2 separate regions of the Homo sapiens genome follow, and region 2 is linked to region 1. Evidence: fine-mapped expression QTL. A gene starts in region 1. The other region holds a variant in brackets. All regions are shown on one strand. Distances are from middle to middle. Region 1 holds the start of C1QTNF4 (C1q and TNF related 4). Region 2 overlaps CELF1 (CUGBP Elav-like family member 1).

What was found. PIP is the estimated chance that this variant, and not a neighbour inherited with it, causes the effect.
Region 2: its variant is the best candidate, but not a certain one, in a credible set for the expression of C1QTNF4 in esophagus mucosa (GTEx, PIP 0.56).

What each region holds. Positions count from the first base shown.
Region 1 is chr11:47,591,983-47,597,354 of GRCh38, forward strand. It overlaps C1QTNF4 (C1q and TNF related 4), which reads right to left and starts at 2,429. Exons shown (of 2, transcript NM_031909.3): 1 at 2,166-2,429.
Region 2 is chr11:47,541,628-47,546,999 of GRCh38, forward strand. The region is part of intron 1 of CELF1 (CUGBP Elav-like family member 1); the gene reads right to left. Among named protein-coding and RNA genes, the nearest start is that of CELF1, 8.8 kb to the right of the region's middle. RefSeq lists an enhancer at 540-1,039. The variant T/C (reference allele first, on the strand shown) is at 3,173.

The DNA.
Region 1 (5,372 bases):
GCTGCTCCCTGACCCCTTTCCTGGCCTCACCAGGGGCCCTTCCTGCACAGAGGAGGCGAGAACAGTTGGGCTTTGAGGTAGCTTCCTCCCCCTTGAAATCAGAGTAAAAGAGAAGGTGACTCCTTTCTCTTTGCTTGGAGGCTGGTTACTCAGAAGAAGGAGTGGCGAGCCAGGGGCTACTGGGGATGGACAGGGACAGCAACAATTCCAGCAGGGCTTTGGCAAGGCTGTGAAGTCAGCAGCTTTGTTCCTTGGGAGTGATGGATTGGAGAGGACAGATAGCCAGATCTGGGTTCAGGTCCTGGCTCTACCACTCACACTGTGAAACCTTGGGCAGGTTCCCTAACTTCTCTGGGCATGGCTTCCTCCATGTAAATGGGGAAGAGACCTCACACACAGGCTTGCTGTGGGGGTGTGCTGAGATAGGTGTGAACATGGTTTGTCAACGGCAGTGCTGAGGTGTGCAGATGCTTCTGTCGGTTGCCCTGACAAAAGTGATCTGGTCCAGTTCTTGACGTAAGGGTTTAGGGACTCAGTCACTCCTACCCCTGAGAGCTTGGTGAAGGCACTGCTTAACTCAAAGGAGTCACTCTCTGATGTAGGGATTCCATCCTGCTTCCTAGTAGGGCACGTGCTTTGGGGCTTGAATACCCAAAAGCCCTGATGTGGAAACAAAACAGGAAAGAAATGAGCTGGAGACAGCCTGGGATGTGGGCTGCTTTAGAAAATGCCCTGTATGTGTAGCTCTGTGTCTCTTAGAGACAGCAGGGACCTGCTGAGAAGGGTTGTCAGGTGTAGATGTGCAGAACGTCCCAGCTAGAATCTAGCTCACACTCCACATGTTAGAGCAGCACCTGGCGTAAAGTATGCCACCTTCTCATTCTCATACTAAAGACCCCAAGTTGCTAGCCAACTGAATGCTGTCTCCTTCCAGAGGAGGTGCTTTTTGTAATTCTCACAAAGGTGTCCTATGGATTAGTTAGGTGTCCCTTGGTTAGGACAGGGAGGAGGGAAGGGGCCATCCACAGTGGTGAAGATGGCACCTCACAAGTGTCCAGTGCATTCCCTTTTACAAAGTTCTTTTAGACACATGGTCTTGGCAAACCTACAAGACAGGTGGGCCGTCTCCCATTTTATAGATGAGAAAGCTGAGGCCCAACAAGGGAAAGCATTTTGGCCCAAGGTCACCCATGGAGCACTGAGGTTTTTTGACTCAAATTCCGTATGCCTTCCTGTCACTCTTCCCTCCTAGACACAGGTATGTCCAGCCAATTTGTTCTGTGCCTCAGTTTACCTTTTTGCAAAACTAGGAGAGGAGATCAGAGGAATGAGTCTTGGGATCCAGGGTGAGGAAGACAGAAAGCAAAACCAAACAAAAGCAAGCAAACACATTCTCTAGTGTTTTGTCTTCTGGGAACACGGAAAACAGCTCAGCTTTTCCATACCGCTGCTTTCCTAGTGGGTCCTGCCCCAGAAGCAGCTGCCCAGCAACCTCCTGACCAAGGCTGGTGCACCCCACCAGTGCCAAGGGTCTTCCTGTGCACCCAGTACCCAGCCTCCGTTTCACCCACACTGCCCAATTCCCAGATCCCTGGATCCTCGTCCTTCCCTGAACCCCCTTCCCTGAGCAGGTCAGAGGTGTGGGAGGGTGTGTCAGGTGGGTGTCATAGCTCCAGGGAAGGAAATGGCTGTTCCTGGCTCTGTCCAGGTGGGGTTCAAAATAGTCATCTTCAAAGAGAAAAACTGGGACACAGAGCTGGAGAGACCCAGAGCCCCGGAGCCAAGGCGGGAGGTGCAGCGATGTCAGGCTGAGGGGATCGCAGAGTTCCCCCTTGCCCTGCCACTCACCAGTTAACCCTTCCCTCAAGCCCTGCCAGAGCCCCCTCCCCAACCTACCTTGAAAGCCCCTCATCCTTCCAAGAAGTCCCACTTTCACAGAAGCCAATTAATCCTTATTTTTAAAAAACAAAAACCAATCCCTCTCCCCCGAGACCTTCCCTCCATCCATCCATCCCTTTGGAATGAAAGCCCTTGTGCCTGTTTCACGAAAAGGCTCCCAGGTCCTCCTTTCAAGGAAAAAGGACCCAATTTCCCCGCGCCTCCCCAGCCCTCGCTTCCAGTAAAGGGGGAACCTCGGCTCCCTGCCTCCCCTCAGCTGCCCTCACCTGGCTGGGGGCGGCGGTCGAGTCGGGTTCGGTCTGAGCCCGCGATCTGGCTCCGGGCTGCGGGCTGCGGGCTGCAGGCTGCAGGCTGCGGGTGCCGGGCTGCGCGCTGACCGCCCGCGCTGCGGCAGGGGCGGCGGGGGCTCCGGCTGCTTTTCCCGGCTCTGAGGCGGCAGCGGACAGGGTGCTGGGGCCAGGGGCCGGGCGTGGGGAGGCGTGAGGGAAAGGGAAGGTCAGCTAGAGAGGGAGCCGAGCGAGAGCGAAGAGGCGGGGGAGAGACGGGAGGGGGAGAGGAGGGGAGTAGGGGAGAGGGAGGGGCGAGCTGCGGGGCCTAGGGGCTCCGCACGGAGTCTGCGCCGAGCACTGGACCCTTCCTCATCTGTGACCTCCTTAGAGCTTCGTCCTCTGGGTCTAGAGAGCAGGCATCATTAATCTGAGCAGTTGGGGAAACTGAGGCCAGAGGCAGCAGCTAACGCGGGGTGGCCCAGAGCGCTCTACAGTCCAGCTTCCTTCCTAGTGTGGGGAGAGAGGGCTAGAGCTGGACTCAGAGGCTGGACTAGCCTTTGGGCTGCAAGGACAGTGGAAGGTGAGATTTTGGCTGGGACAGATGTCCAAGCTAAGTGGCCTTGGGGGAGAGGTCTGAAGGAAGAGAAGGATAAATGGGTCAATGTTGCCAGTAAAGGAAGAGCTGAAAATAACCTAGTTTTTCCTCCTCACCTCCAAATTGGAAAATGCCCACGGTCGGTTAGGAAAGAGGGAGAAGGGAGTCTGCAGGCATCAGAGGGGCAGCCTGCGTTCCCCGGGGTGAGGGGCAGTAAGGAGGAGAGTCCTTGGGGCAGAATGGAATTTTCTGCTGGGAAGGTTGCTCCTGCAAGAAGGGACAGGATTGAGAGGGCAATAGGTGGGGAAGAAAGGCCTCTGGAGAGGGAAACTGATGCCCTGCCTCGCTGGGGCCAGGCTAGCAAGAGTCCAGCAGGGCACCCGGGCTGGGAACAGCGGTCTTCCCATGGTAATACTCACCAGAGGCACTAGTGCTGGCCTCTACTCTGGGCTTCGAGCCCGTGGGATGGGGGCTCAGACTCCCTTTCTCTAGGCTGCTGTTCTCTCCCCTGACGGCTGTAGAGGTGACGACACTGCCTGGCACTCAGTAGATGCTGACTGAGTGGATGACTTTTGAAGAGCTCTACTTTCAGCAGCCAAGAGCTGGTGCCCTCTGCCTGGCCCTGGTTGACTCCAGAGCCATGGGCTCTAATTCTGCCTCTGCTGCAGGTCTGCTCTGTGGTCCCTGAGAGGCCTGGACCCCTGCAGAACCCCCGTCCTCTGGAGCTTTCCTTTTGGAGCTCTCAAAGTTTACCCCACCCCAGTTAATCTATTTGTCTCTAGGAAGATGTTGGTAGAGGTGATTGGCTCTGCTTCAAGGGTGTTAGGTGAATGATGGAATGAATTAACGAATATGTGCCAGAATAGAAAGGAATGAATGGAGGTGTTTTGGGCTGGATAATGAGGGTATTTGGTGACAGAGGGTGAAGCACCTGTCTAGCCCTTGTCAGATCACAACTGTCTCTTTCACCAACTTGAAAAGCTTGGGCCACAGGACTGTGGGGAGGACAAGAAGCAGGGTAAGGGTGGGATGAGCCACACAGGGATGTCGAAGGAGAGCTGGGGGATGCCAAAAGCCAACCTATGGCAATCTATGGCCCTTCTTAGGGCCATGGGCCCCTTCTGGATGAGAAGAGTGGAGCTGCTCTCCTGAGGGTGATTCCAATGGTGGGAGGGGAGGGGAGGGGAGAAGGTATATTATAGGATAATATAATCTCAGTTGAGGTTTGGTTCAGGCTGGGATTTGACACTCCCTGGATCCACAAGAGTTCTCACCAGAGAAGTGAGGGTTGAGGTAGAGATGGGTGGCTGGGGCAGATGACATCAGGATTTGCATCAGGGGACTGGGATAGGGAGGAAGCCACTGGGAAAGGGATATAGAGAAAGATGATGCCATGAGCTGGTGGGTGTAAGGCAGATGGGTGGGCTCCAGAATGGGAGTTAAGAAGAGGTGGCAGCAGGATCCAGAGAAAAGCCCTAGGCTGGTTATAGTCCCTGCTCCCTCCTCTCTTGTTTTGCAGCCACAATTTTATTTATTTTTGAGAGAGGGTCTTGCTGTGTCACCTGGGCTGGAGTGCAATGGTATGATCTTGGCTCACTGCAGCTTTGACCTTGCGGGCTCAAGTGATTCTCCCACCTCAGCCTCCCAGGTAGCTGGGACTACAGGTGCAGGTCACCATGCCTGGCTAATTTTTTTTAAAATTTTTTGTAGAGACGAGGTCTCACTCTGTTGCCCAGGCTGGTCTTAAACAACAATTATTTTATTTATTTTTTAATTGAGACGGGTATGGCTGGGCATGGTGGCTTACGCCTATGATATTAGCACTTTGGGAGGCCAAGGTGGGAAGATCGCTTGAGCTCAGAAGTTTGAGACCACTCTGGGCAACAGAGTGAGACCCCATCTCTCTCTCTCTTTTTTTTTTTTTTTTCTGAGACAGACTCTCGCTCTGTTGCCCAGGCTGGAGTGCAATGCTGCGATCTTGGCTCACTGCAACCTCCGCCTCCCGGGTTCAAGCGATTCTCCTGCCTCAGCCTCCTGAGTACCTGGGATTACAGGAGCGCGCCACCATGTCCGACTAATATTTTGTATTTTTAGTAGAGACGGGGTTTCACCATGTTGGTCAGGCTGGTCTTGGAACTCCTGACCTCGTGATCCGCCCGCCTTGGCCTCTCAAAGTGCTGGGATTACAGGCGTGAGCCACCGCGCCCAGCTGTCCCCATCACTTAAAAAAAAAGTTAAAAAAATTAACATTAAAATATATATAAATTGAGACGGGTTCTTTTTTCTTTTCTTGAGATGGAGTTTTGCTCTTGTTGCCCAGGCTGGCGTGCAATGGAGCAATCTTGGCTCACCGCAACCTCCCGCTCCCAGGTTCAAGTGATTCTCCTGCCTCAGCCTCCTGAGTAGCTGGGATTACAGGTATGCACCACCACCCTGGCTAATTTTGTATTCTTAGTAGAGATGGAGTTTCTGCATGTTGGTCAGGCTGTTCTCAAACTCCTGACCTCAGGTGATCCGCCCGCCTCAGCCTCCCAAAATGCTGGGATTTCAGGAGTGAGCCACTGCGCCTGGCTGAGATAGGTTCTTACTCTGTCACCCAGGCTGGAGTG
Region 2 (5,372 bases), 50 kb before region 1:
TGCAGCGAGCCAAGATCTCACCACTGTACTCCAGAGCCTGGTGACAGGGCGAGACTGTCAAAGAAAGAAAGAAAGAAAGAAAGAAAGAAAGAAAGAAAGAACGAAAGAAAGAACGAAAGAAAGAAAGAACGAAAGAAAGAACGAAAGAAAGAACGAAAGAAAGAACGAAAGAAAGAAAGAAAGAAAGAAAGAAAGAAAGAAAGAAAGAAAATGGAAACTACTGACCCTTCGAAATTAAAAGTATAACAGTACAAAATTACACAGCCCAGGAATCAAAAAACTTCATTTTGCATAATCCCCAAACTAAAGACATTCCCCCCCAAAACACAGTTTTAATGGAGTTATAACTTAGAAAGAAAGTAAAATTATTCAACTCCATTTTGTCAAAGCTGAATGTAGCTATAAAAAGAAGACCTGGAGGTCATAAAGTTAGTGGAGAGTTCTTTCTAAAGCCGTACTGGGCTGGGCGCGGTGGCGTGCGTCTGTAATTTCAGCACTTCGGGAGGCCGAGGCAGGTGGATCACCTGAGGTCAGGAGTTCGAGACCAGCCTAGCCAACATGGTGAAACCCCATCTCTACTAAAAATACAAAAATTAGCCAGGCATGCTGGCAGGTGCCTATAATCCCAGCTACTCGAGGTTGAGGCAGAAGAATCGCTTCAACCCGGGAGGCGAAGGCTGCAGTGAGCTGAGATCGCACCACTGCACTCCACCCTGGGCAACAAGAGTGAAACTCTGTCTCAAATAAATAAAGCCGTATCTGCACCCATGAACATATCTAAAAGTGGCACATCAAATTTGATTAAGTGAGATCCATTAGGTATCAATGCAATCACTAAAAAAACCTCATCATTCTTGATACTTTCTCCATTTTTTTTTTTTTTTTTTTTTGAGACAGGGTCTCCCTGTTGCCCAGGCTGGAGTGTAGTGGCGTGATCTCAGTTCACTGCAACCTTCACCTCCTGGGTTCAAGCCATTCTTGTGCCTCAGCCACTTGAGGAGCTGGGATTACAGACACGCACCACCACATCTGGCTAAGTCTTGTATTTTCAGTAGAGACAGTGTTTCACCATGTTGGCCAGGCTGGTCTCAAACTTCTGGCCTCACGTGATCCGCGTGTCTTGGCCTCCCAAAGTGCTGGGATTAAAGGCGTGAGCCACCGTGCTCAGCTTTACAACATATCAACAGGGCTGGACTGTGCTCATCTTTAGAAAATATCAACAGGGCTGGGTGCGGCAGCTCACACCTGTAATCCCAACACTTTGGGAGGCCAAGGCAGGAGGATCACTTGAGGACAGGTGTTCAAGACTAGGAGAGATCCCGTCTCTACAAATACTACAAAAATTAGCCAGGTGTAGCAGTGTGCACCTGTAGTCCCAGCTACTCGGAAAGCTGAGGCTGGAGGATCGCTTGAGCCCAAGAGTTCCAGGCTATAATTGCACCACTGCACTCAAGTCTGGGCAACAAAGAGAGATCCTGTCTCTAATGGAAAAGAAGGCCAGCATGGTAGCTCATGCCTGTAATCCCAGCACTTTGGGAGGCCGAGGCAGGAGGATTGCTAGAGACCAGGGGGTCAAGACCAGCCTGGGAAACATAGTGGGACCCCATCTCTACAAAAAATAAAATTAGCCAAGCGTGGTGTTGCGCACCTATAGTCCCGGCTACTTGGGAGGCTGAGGTGGGGAAGAATCACTTGAGGCCTGGGAGGTTGAGGCTACAGTGAGCCACGATAACGCCACTGCACTCCAGCCTGAGTGACACAATGAGACCTTGTCTCGGAAAACAACAGCCCAAAAAAGCCCCAAACTTTACAAATCTGGAACTTAATGAAGTGTAAAATAAACAAATATGTACTCATGGCCTCCACAGCACAGCAGAGGTTAAAAAATAACTATAGAATTCTATAAAGAAACCTCTACTTTAAGAAGATTCTAAGCCAATTCTATGACAAGACCAAAGTTATTTTACAAAGGTCTCATCAAGGAAACTGTCTTCAAGGCAGTCATGATGTTGCCCTCCTGTAATCAATCCCAACTACTCAGGAGGCTGAGACAGGAGGACTGCTTGAGCTCAAGAGTTTGCACCAGTTTGGGCTACATAGCGGACCCGTGGACCCCTGTCCCCACCCCGTCTCTAAAAAAAAAAGAAAGCTGTTTTCGGCAAATAAGGACTCTTGATACAATATAGTTTACAAAGCAAATAGCTAAAACTGATTAAGTCTTAAATCTGCATTACAACTCTAAATATTAGAGCCCTCCTCCCCGCCTCAACTTGTCACTTGAAACTACGAAGAGACCCAAGTGTCCCCTATTACAAATCCAAAATATTCATTTATAATTTTCAGTTTTCTTTGAACACAGAAGCCTCCTAACAGTAGACTCTCAAAGTAGAAATAGTGAATATGAAATCTAGGAAACCATATTACCCAAGTATTCCACAAGGAACAACGTCCTGTTTAGCACAGCATTTCAGACACACAAATCTTATCCCTTAAGCCACAACAGACACAAGAAAATGCAAAACAAAATGCACTCATAAAAGGGAACAAAAGGAACACTGACATAGTAGCTACTGCTCATCTATGTATGGCACTCCTAGGCAGTTCACCTGTGTTATTTATTTCATTTGGCTGAAATGCATTACTGACCCAAGAGACTAGTGGTATGCCCATTTTACACATGGAAAAAGAAACAGCATTATCAATACTGTATCAGGCACTGTTCAGTGCCTAGCATAAGTTACCTCAATTAATCCTCACATTACTATTCTGAGTTGGTATCTCCACTTTAAAGACAGGAAAACAGGGCCAGAAATGTTAACTGGTGGTACCCCAAATCCACTGTCCCAAGCTGTCACAGCTATCCTTACCAGGCTGTGTTTATAAAGCCCATTCAAGTCACATCATTCTTTCAAACCATTTCAAGGATTCCACAATCAAAAAATCAACTCTCAATTACAGAAAGACTTAATTCTCCAGATTTTCATCAAAATTTTCTTATTTCTATTTTATTTGCCTTTTGACCATTTCAGTGTACTGTAATTCTAGTATACGTGTTCTGGTAACTATAGGATTATATTAATAGCAATCAACTTTGGGAGGCTGAGGCGGGCAGTTCACCTGAGGTCAGGAGTTTGAGACCAGCCTGACCAACATGGAGAAACCCCATCTCTAC[T/C]AAAAATACAAAATTAGCCAGGTATGGTGGCACATGCCTATAATCCCAGCTACTCGGAAGGCTGAGGAAGGAAAATCACTTGAGCCCAGGAGGTGGAGGTTGCAGTGAGCTGAGATGGTGCCACTGCACTCCAGCCTGGGTAACAACAGTGACACTCACTCTCAAAAAAATAAAAATAAAAAAATCAAGAATCAAAGAATAGGCCAGACATGGTGGCTCATGCCTGTAATCACAACACTTTGGGAGGCCCAGACAGGCGGATAACTTGAGATCAGGAGTTCAAGATCAGCCTGGCCAAGCCTGGCCAACATGGCGAAACCCCATCTCTAATAAAAATACAAAAATTAAGACCGGGTGGAGTGGTTCATGCCTGTAATCCCAGCACTTTGGGAAGCCGAGGTGGGCGGATCACCTGAGGTCGGGAATTCGAGACCAGCCTGACCAACATGAAGAAACCCCATCTCTACTAAAAATACAAAAATTAGCCGGGCATGGTGGCGGGCACCTATAATCCCAGCTGCTTGAGAGGCTGAGGCACGAGAATTGCTTGAACCCCTCCCAGCAGAGGTTGCAGTGAGCCGAGATTGAACCACTGTACGCTAGCCTGGGCGACAGAGCGGGACTCTGTCTCAAAAGAACAAATAAATACTGACCTTCATTCAGAACCATAAAGTCTCCAATACTCATTATTAAGAGGTTAATAACAAGAGTTATTAAGAGGTTATTAAGAGGTTAATAAGGAACATATTGTTAATAACAAGGAGCATTAAGAGGTTAATAACAAGGAGTGAATCTGAAGTCTTACAGCATAAAGTTTGCCTAGCTGCCAGAGACCTTATTTCTATTTCTTCTTTTTTTAGTAGAAAAGTTTTACAAAATTTGTAGGAAAATACAATAATTTTTGTATTTTTTGTAGAGATGAGGTCTAGCTATGTTGCCCAGGCTGGTCTCAAGCTCCTGAGCTCAAGCAATCTGCCCGCCTCAGTCTTCCAAAGTGCTGGGATTACAGGCATGCACCACCATGCCCAGCCCCTCTCTCTCATATGTATACGTGTGTGTGTGTGTGTCTGCGTGTGTGTGTGTGTGTGTGTGTGTGTGTGTGTGTGTATATATATATTTTTTTTTTTTTGAGATGGAGTCTCCCACTCTCACCCAGGCTGGAGTGCAGTGGTGCCATCTCAGCTCACTGCAAGCTCCGCCTCCCGGGTTCACGCCATTCTCCTGCCTCAGCCTCCCAAGTAGCTGCGACTACAGGTGCCTGCCACCATGCCCAGCTAATTTTTTGTATTTTTAGTAGAGACGGGGTTTCACCGTGTTAGCCAGGATGGTCTCGATCTCCTGACCTTGTGATCTGCCTGCCTCGGCCTCCCTACATCTTTTTAAGGGAGAAAAATAGGAGAAAGGCCTTTCATGCAATTGACAGATACTCTCAGTATCTTTTTTTTTTTTTTTTTGGGCGGGGGCCGGGGGCGGGGGCGGGGGAGGGAATGGAGTTTTGCTCTTGTAGCCCAGGCTGGAGTGCAGTGGCTTGATCTTGGCTCACTGCAACCTCTGTCTCCCTAGTTCAAGCGATTCTCCTGCCTCAGCCTCCTAAGTAGCTGGGATTACAGGCATGCGCCACCACACCTGGCTAATTGTGTATTTTTGGCAGAGACGGGGTTTCTCAGATGATCCGCCCACCCTGGCCTCCCAAAGTGCTGGGATTACAGGTATGAGCCACCACGCCGGGCCAACTTTCTTCACACTAGAACAAACTGAGAGACCTATGAGTATCTTTGAAATGTTCATACCTGAAAGTATTATTCTAACTAGGCCATTAATGACAGATTTACAAATTTATCTGTGCACAACATAAGATACCTAGAAATTGGTCCACCTAAGAAAGCCATTCATATATTATAGGTATAAAGCAAAGGCAGGAACTTGTCAATTCTTATCCTCTTCATGTGATACTTTTTCAGCACACATTTTTTGAAAACGCTGTGCCAGGCACAGTGGCTCACACCTGTAATTGCAGAACTTTGGGAGGCTGAGGTGGGTGAATCACCTGAGGTCAGGAGTTCAAGACCAGCTTGACCAACCTGGAGAAACCTCCGTCTCTACTAAAAATACAAAAAATTAGCTGGGGGTCATGGCATATGCCTGTAATCCCAGCTATTTGGGAGGCTGAGGCAGGAGAATCACTTGAACCCGGGAGGCA